Homo sapiens: one gene and its partner. The protein of the gene in region 2 purifies or fractionates together with the protein of the main gene of each other region. This does not show direct contact. Each region holds a gene or a part of one and is shown on either strand. Other genes may lie near its edges.

Evidence for each region.
Region 1: the proteins of OCM2 (region 2) and ZMYM6 purify together in Homo sapiens (affinity purification with mass spectrometry; one large-scale study listed by BioGRID and IntAct). This does not show direct contact.

The regions. Positions count from the first base shown.
Region 1 is NC_000001.11:35,021,776-35,025,593, forward strand, and holds part of ZMYM6 (zinc finger MYM-type protein 6), read right to left. Parts: intron 1-3,818. UniProt on the Homo sapiens protein: Plays a role in the regulation of cell morphology and cytoskeletal organization.
Region 2 is NC_000007.14:97,987,877-97,991,794, forward strand, and holds the start of OCM2 (oncomodulin-2), read right to left. Parts: upstream 2,321-3,918; 5' UTR 2,229-2,320; coding exon 2,168-2,228; intron 673-2,167; coding exon 540-672; intron 1-539.

The DNA of each region.
Region 1 (3,818 bases), on a different chromosome or scaffold from region 2:
AGACAAAATCCTATTTATTCTTACCACATTCTTTAAAACGTTTTAAAACAAAATGTAATCATGAAACATTTTTAAAATGTAAATGCCTATCTTTATTCTGAAATTGCAACCATCCTTTTTTTTAATGTTAAAATACCCTTACATATTTCAAAACAGGAAGTTTTTTAAAAAGTCTTACTTTTCTGAATCAATGATGGTAATAAATGGCAGTTGTATTTTTAATCTCTCCACACATAGCAAAATAAATGAGTAGCTATGTTAGTTCCAAAGTTACTTTAGAAATTTCTTTAGACTATTAAATGCCAAAAACTAGGAACCATTGCATTAATTCACCACTTCCCATGATATGTATTATGAGCACCCAAAGAGGTGCTCTCTATAAGATATGCCTTCTTTATAGATGAGGAAAGTGAAGCTAAGAGATGTTCAGCAACTTGCCCAAGGTCACAAAGAGACTACGTGCACAGATGGGAATCAAACCCAGTCTCTCTGTTTTGTTTTTTTTTTCTTTTTGAGACGGAGTCTCGCTCTGTAGCCCAGGCTGGAGTGCAATGGTGCCATCTCGGCTCACTGCAACCTCTCCCTCCCGGGTTCAAGTGATCCTCAGCCTCCTGGGTAGCTGGGATTACAGGCACTCACCACCATGCCCAGCTAATTTTTGTATTTTTAGTAGAGACAGAGTTTCACCATGTTGGTCAGGCTGGTCTTGAACTCCTGACCTCAGGTGACCCACCCACCTCCACCTCCCAAAGTGCTGGGATTACAGGCATGAGCCACCGCACCCAGCCAGTCTCTCTGTTCTAAAACCCAAGATAGCACTGTCATAGATGTGAAAATATAAAGTAATTACTACAATGAATTCAAACTCTGGTCCAACTGAAATTAAGTTCCCCTGTTGCAGTAGTCTCTCCCATCTCCTTTCTCTCACAGCAGTTACCATAGTAAATCATTTCATTGCTTATTTGGATAATTTGATTAATGCTTAACATTCATCCTTCCCCCTACACACACATTAGACTAAAAAGATCACATCCATTATGGACAATACCTGTTTTTCTCACCCCTGTATACCCAATCGCCCAACACAGTCAACATAACAGTAATGACTATAGGTTCTAACAGCAGACAGAAACAGATATGATCTTGACTCCTAAACAAGCTATTTAATCTTTCTTAGTTTCAATTTCTTTATCTGTAAAATAAAGATAATATTACCTAACCCATAGGGCCAACGGGGAGGGAGGGGGCAAATGACTTAATATAAATAAGGTATACAGAATGACATCTTACAGTTAGTCAAAAGCAAGCACGATATGTACACAAAATGCTAGTTCTTTTTTTTTTTCTTTTGAGATGGAGTTTCGCTCTTGTTGCCCAGGCTGGAGTGCAATGGCGGATCTCAGCTCACCACAACCTCCACCTCCAGGGTTCAATCGATTCTCCTCCCTCGGCCTCCCCAGTAGCTGGGATTACAGGCATGCGCCACCACGCCTGGCTAATTTTGTATTTTTAGTAGAGACGGGGTTTCTCCATGTTGGTCAGGCTGGTCTCGAACTCCTGACCTCAGGTGATCTGCCCGCCTTGGCCTCCCAGAGTGCTGGGAGTACAGGCGTGAGCCACTGCACCTGGCCAAAATGCTAGTTCTCATACTTATTTATTAGTTTCATAACTGGCATTTAATAAATACTTGCTAAATGAAGGAATCTAAGTCTATTCAATCCAAAGTGCATGTTCTTAAACATTATACTTAAATAACAATATTTATTGACACTTGCAAAATGAAGAGGACATTAAAAATATTATATACATCTTCAAATTACCAAAATGAGTGTTTAAGATTCAATAAAATTTTTTTTTTTTTTTTGGAGACAGAATCTCGCTCTGTCACCCATGCTGGAATGCAGTGGACGATCTCGGCTCACTACAAGCTCCGCCTCCCAGGTTCACGACATTCTCCTGCCTCAGCCTCCGGAGTAGCTGGGACTACAGGCGCCCACCACCATGCCTGGCTAATTTTTTTGTATTTTTAGTAGAGACGGGGTTTCACCGTGTTAGCCAGGATGGTCTCGATCTCCTGACCTCGTGATCTGCCCGTCTCGGCCTCCCAAAGTGCTGGGATTATAGGCATGAGCCACCGCGCCCGGCCAGATTCAATAAAAATTTCTTTGCCTTATCAACTCAATTTCTAAAATTTTTCTAGTATTTCTGTTATATTTCCCTGACCAGTTTCTTTTACCTCACAAAGTAATTTTTCTAAACCTTCATAGCTCACGAGTCCCAACTCCACATCTTTCCTGCTCATTGATGTTTCAATTGCACCAGGTAAAAACAAGTAACTAAGAACTCCCTCAACATCCCTCAGCCCCCTCCACCTTACCTACAAATTGCTCAGCAAACTGTCCTGCTATCTTACAGGAAAAGGAAACCTTCTTTTTAGCTATAGCTGAAATAGTGCTATTTTAGAATAATTATGTTCCAAGTATTGCAAGCAATACACTTATAGTAAAAATCACCATTGTTTATTTGATAGTCAAATTTAACCTGGCATCCTGTATTTTATCTGGAAGCCCTACATCTCCAAGTAGATAACTTTCTAATCTCAAATCCCAGATTTTTATGTGCAAATGCCTCCTTGTGCAGTTTACCACTTGAATGTCCCACAAGCCCTTTAAACACAACAGACCTCAAACTGCACTTAGTACTTCCTCCAAAATCCTGTTCTAACCCCTCAGTAAATGGTATCACCATAAACCCCAAAACCTGTAAGTATCCTTGGACTCCTCTTTGACCTTCACACCCATAAACAATCTCTAAATTTGATCAATCCTACCTAACCATTTTTAAATCTATTATCTTTTCCCACTTTATTGTTGATACTCAACTATTAAACACACCACATTCTCTCACCCCTCCATGACGTGGCTATTTTCTCTGCTATATTTTCTCTGTCTGAAACTCTTAGTCAATTTTTATAATACAATTGCTACCTGCTATGTGAAACCTTCCTCTCCTTCCCATATAGATTTAGGGCTCCTTCCCCTATGCTCCCAATGCACCTCACACAATTTTAAAGCACTTACCTAAGACTGTGATTTTGTATTTTTTTTTTTTCAGATGGAATATTGCTCTGTTGCCCAGGCTGGAGTGCAGTGGAGCAATCTCTGTTCACTGCAGCCTCCGCCTCCTGGGTTCAAGTGATTCTCCTGCCTCAGCCTCCCCAGTAGCTGAGATCACAGGCATGTGCCACGAAGCCTGGCTAATTTTTTTGTATTTTTAGTAGAGTTGTGGTTTCACCGTGTTGGCCAGGCTGGTCTTGAACTCCTGACCTCAAGTGAGCCACCTACCTCGGCCTCCCAAAGTGCTGGGATTACAGGTATGAGCCACCACTCATGGCCTTGATTTTGTATTTGCACAAAAGGTGGCACAGGCCAGGCACGGTGGCTCACGCCTGTAACCCCAGCACTTTGGGAGGCCGAGGCAGGTAGAGTTCGAGACCAGCCGGCCAACATGGTGAAACCCCGTCTCTATTAAAAATACAAAAATTAGCCAGGTGTGGTGGTGGGCACCTGTAATCCCAGCTACTCGGCAGGCTGAGGCAGGAGAACTGCGTGAACCCAGGAGGTGGAGGTTGCAGTGAACCGAGATGGCGCCACTGCACTTCAGCCTGGGCTACAAAGCAAGACTCCATCCCAAAAAAAAAAAAAAAAAAAAAAGAAAGAAAAAAAAAAGGTGGCACAAAGCAGCAGAAAGCATACAAGTTTGAAGACAATTAGGTTTAAATGAGAATGCATAAGATATGCTTAGCATAGCTTCTCACA
Region 2 (3,918 bases):
CAAAGGAAATCCCTTACATGAAAGAATCTTTGCGGCTGGGCACGGTGGCTCACACCTGTAATCCCAGCACTTTGGGAGGCCAAGGCAGGAGGATCACTTGAAGTCAGGAGTTTGAGACCAGCCTGGCAACATGGTGAAACCCCATCTCTACTCTAAATATGAAAATTAGCTGGATGTGGTGGCAAGCACCTGTAATCCCAGCCACTTGGGAGACTGAGGCATGAGAATCACTTGAGTTTGGAAGGCGGAGGCTGCAGGGAGCTGAGATCACCCCACTGCACTCCAGCCTGGGTGACAGTGAGGCCCTGTCTCAAAAAAAAAAAAGAATCTTTGCACCTGTAGTCTTCACTGCCCATGTTGAGGGCTTTGCATGGGTAGATGTGCGGTCAACTGACTCATGTCCTTTGCTTTAATGATGCTTGGCCGAATGACCAACACCAAGGCTGGCCATTGAAGAAATACTGAGCAACCTGGCCCCCACTGCACCCCAGGCCCACCCAGCAGTGCCAGGTACCAGACAGCCTCAGGACAAAGCTTACTTAAGCTCTTCTTCATCCAGATACCCGCTCTGGTCGTTGTCTATGAACCGGAAAACATCCTTCACCTGACTGGCTGACATCTTGGAGAGGCCTGACGTCTGGAAGAATTTTTGGGGTTCAAAAGTGTCTGGGTCTGAAGAACAGAGAATGGGTTATTCTGACACTCATTGGATCACATTCTATGTTGGGGCCAAGGTACTGAAAACACAGATGATTAAAAACACTTCAACAATATCCCTGAGCTACGGGGATGCTCAACTGGTCTAAGATTTTGGGACAGCCAAGACTTGATGGCTCTGTGATGGCATCCCATGTCCCCTCCGCCCCGGTCTTCCCTCCTCCACTTGGTTTTGTCCATTTTCCTTTTCCCTCCTCCTCTCCTCTGTGCCTCCCCCTCCCCCTGGCCCACTTTACAGGCTGTGTGGCCGAGCCCCCAACATCCCTGGTCTAATTGGTAGGGGGAAATGCAATCACTGGATTTCAACAGGCTAAATGGCCTTTGGCGATTTCTTTCTTTCTTTTTTTTTTTTTTTTGAGACAGAGTCTCACTCTGTCGCCAGGCTGGAGTGCAGTGGCGTGATCTCGGCTCACTGCAACCTCTGCCTCCCAGGTTCAACTGATTCTCCTGCCTCAGCCTCCCGAGTAGCTGGGATTACAGGCATGCACCCCCATGCCCAGCTCATTTTTGTATTTTTAATAGAGACAGGGTTTTGTCAGGCTGGCCAGGTTGGTCTTGAACTCCTGACCTCAAGTGATGCACCGGCCTTGGCCTCCCAAAGTGCTGGGATTACAGGTGTGAGCACCACACCTGGCCCTTCAGTGATTTCTTGCTTTCATGTTTAGTAGGTTTCTTTTGTCTTACAGAAGTGTAATCGTGTGCTCAGATCCCAGATCTCTATAATTTTAGTTATCTAATAAATAGTAGTTTTCTTCTCTGATTCCATGAATTTTCCAGCCAAGCTCTTATTTACTTATTTATTTATTTATTTATTTATTTATTTAGAGACAGAGTCTCACTCTGTCGTCCAGGCTGGAGTGCAGTGTAGCGATCATAGCTCACCACAGCCTCAACCTCCTGGGCTTGAGTGATCCTCCTACCTTAGTTTCCAGAGTAGCTGGGACCACAGGCACATGCCACCATGCCCCGCTAGTTTTTATTTTTATTGTTATGTTGTAGAGATGGAGTCTTGTTATGTTGCCCAGGCTGGTCTCAAACTCCTGGGCTCAAACAGTCCTCTCACCTTGGCCTCCGAAAAGTGTTGGGATTACGGATGTGAGCCACCATGCCTGGTCTACATTTTTTTTTTTTTTGTAGACAGAGTCTACAAAAAAGGCCGGGTTCAAGCAATTCTCAGCCTCAGCCTCCCGAGTAGCTGGGATTACAGGTGCCCACCACCACGCCTGGCTAATTTTTTTGTATTTTTATTAGAGATGGGGTTTCACCATCTTGGCCAGGCTGGTCTCAAACTCCTGACCTCGTGATCCACCCACCTCAGCCTCCCAAAGTGCTAGGATTACAGGCGTGAGCCACTGCGTCTGGCCGCCTGGCCTACATTTTGATTTTGTGTTGCCTCGCTGGAGGGGCAAAGCTGTGAGGAAATCCCACCCCCGCCCCACGTCCCCTCTACCTTGGCATTCCTGGAGCGCTGCTGCAATGTCATCAGCACTGAGCACGTCCGTGATGCTCATTTTCTACCTACTCACACAGAATAAACGAGAGGCGATAAGCCACAAACAGGAACGTGCACATCCAGGGGAAACACATCTTCCCAGGCCCACTGAAACTGTATGTGTGTCTAGATTTTTTTTTTTTTTTTTTTTGAGATGGAGTCTCACTCTGTCACCCAGGCTGGAGTGCAGTGGCACAATCTTGGCTCACTGCAACCTCCACCTCCTGGGCTCAAGTGATTCTCCTGCCTCAGCCTTCCGAGTAGCTGGGATTACAGGTGCGCACTACCAGGCCTGGCTGATTTTTGTGTTTTTAGTAGAGATGGGGTTTTGCCATGTTTGCCAGCCTGGTCTCGAGCTCCTGACCTCATGTGATCTGCCTGCCTTGGCCTCACAAACTGCTGGGATTACAGGCATAAGCCACCAAGCCAGGCCTGTCTAGAATTTTTAAAATGTGATAAGCATGGTTTTGTATTAAGTGACGGGACAGAATATCCAAATTAAAACCAGATACCAAAAAGACCCCAGCCCTTTTTGTCTCAGAGCCTTCTTTTGAATATATGCCAAAAATGAAAAAAAAAAACATGACCCAAAGAAGGATTCAATTGTTTTCTTATAAAAATTATACTGACATAATCAGTCATTTGCATAGGCAGCCGTAAACCATGTTACAAATGCACTGGCATTTTCCTACAGCAGTCCGAGAGATGCACTGTTGCAAATTCCACGTGGGAAAGGATACAGTTTGGGCTGCTTGCAGACATTCTGTGGAAGAAGACATGCTACCTGTCCTGAAAGGTGGGAAGCAGATGGATGAAAAGCCCATCTCCCAGAGATTAAAATCCTTCCAGATGTCAGAGCCATGGGAAAACAGGAGTCTAAGCACCTGAGCCTAATATGAATGCATGCAGTGAAGAAGAGTCTGGGGTCTGATGGGTCCACCAGTTACTCACCGTTTTAGGTTTTCCCCCAGGAAGAATCAGGAAAAAGAGTTGAAGGAGCAAAACAACAGATGTGCTTTTGCTACCTTACTGACCTACCTTATATAGGCTAGAAAAAGTGATAGTTACAACCTCTTAGATTTCCTTTTCAAGGATCAAGTGGATGCAGCTCAAATGTCTTGTCCTACTCAGGAAACCTCTTTTTTTTTTCTATTTATGTCTCAAGGGAATGTGGGTGGGAATAGCCAATTGTAAAAACAACAACAACAACAACAACCTCAACAAACCTTAACTAAGGTTTCAATTCTGCAAACGAACCCTGTTGGCAAAGTGTGGAGAAGGTTCTAGAGCCTGGTAAGCTGGAGATGGTGGCCTGAACTAAGACAAACACATACAGGGTGCTCTGTAAGCTGAAAAGCTCCCCAGATGTTAGCAGGTACCGTTGGAGGCAGGCCTGTTTTCAGCTTTGGGAACTATGGATGTGTAAGGCTGACCTCAATCTGGAGTTGAAGACTCAAAGCCATTGTCACCAAGTGCACACACAGGACTCGTCCGGCACAGGAGACAGGGCTAAGTGACGTGATTTTCCTACAAAACTCTTGACTTTTACGTTTCCCAGCTATACCATAAATTGCACACACTCAAAAGGCAAAAAGGAGGAAATCAAACCAGCATCCCCAACCCCCAAAACTAACAAGTTCAGAAACAAATACTCTGAGGCTGAGGCCAGGACTAGACACCTCAAGATTTTGTTTCTGTTGTGACAGGGT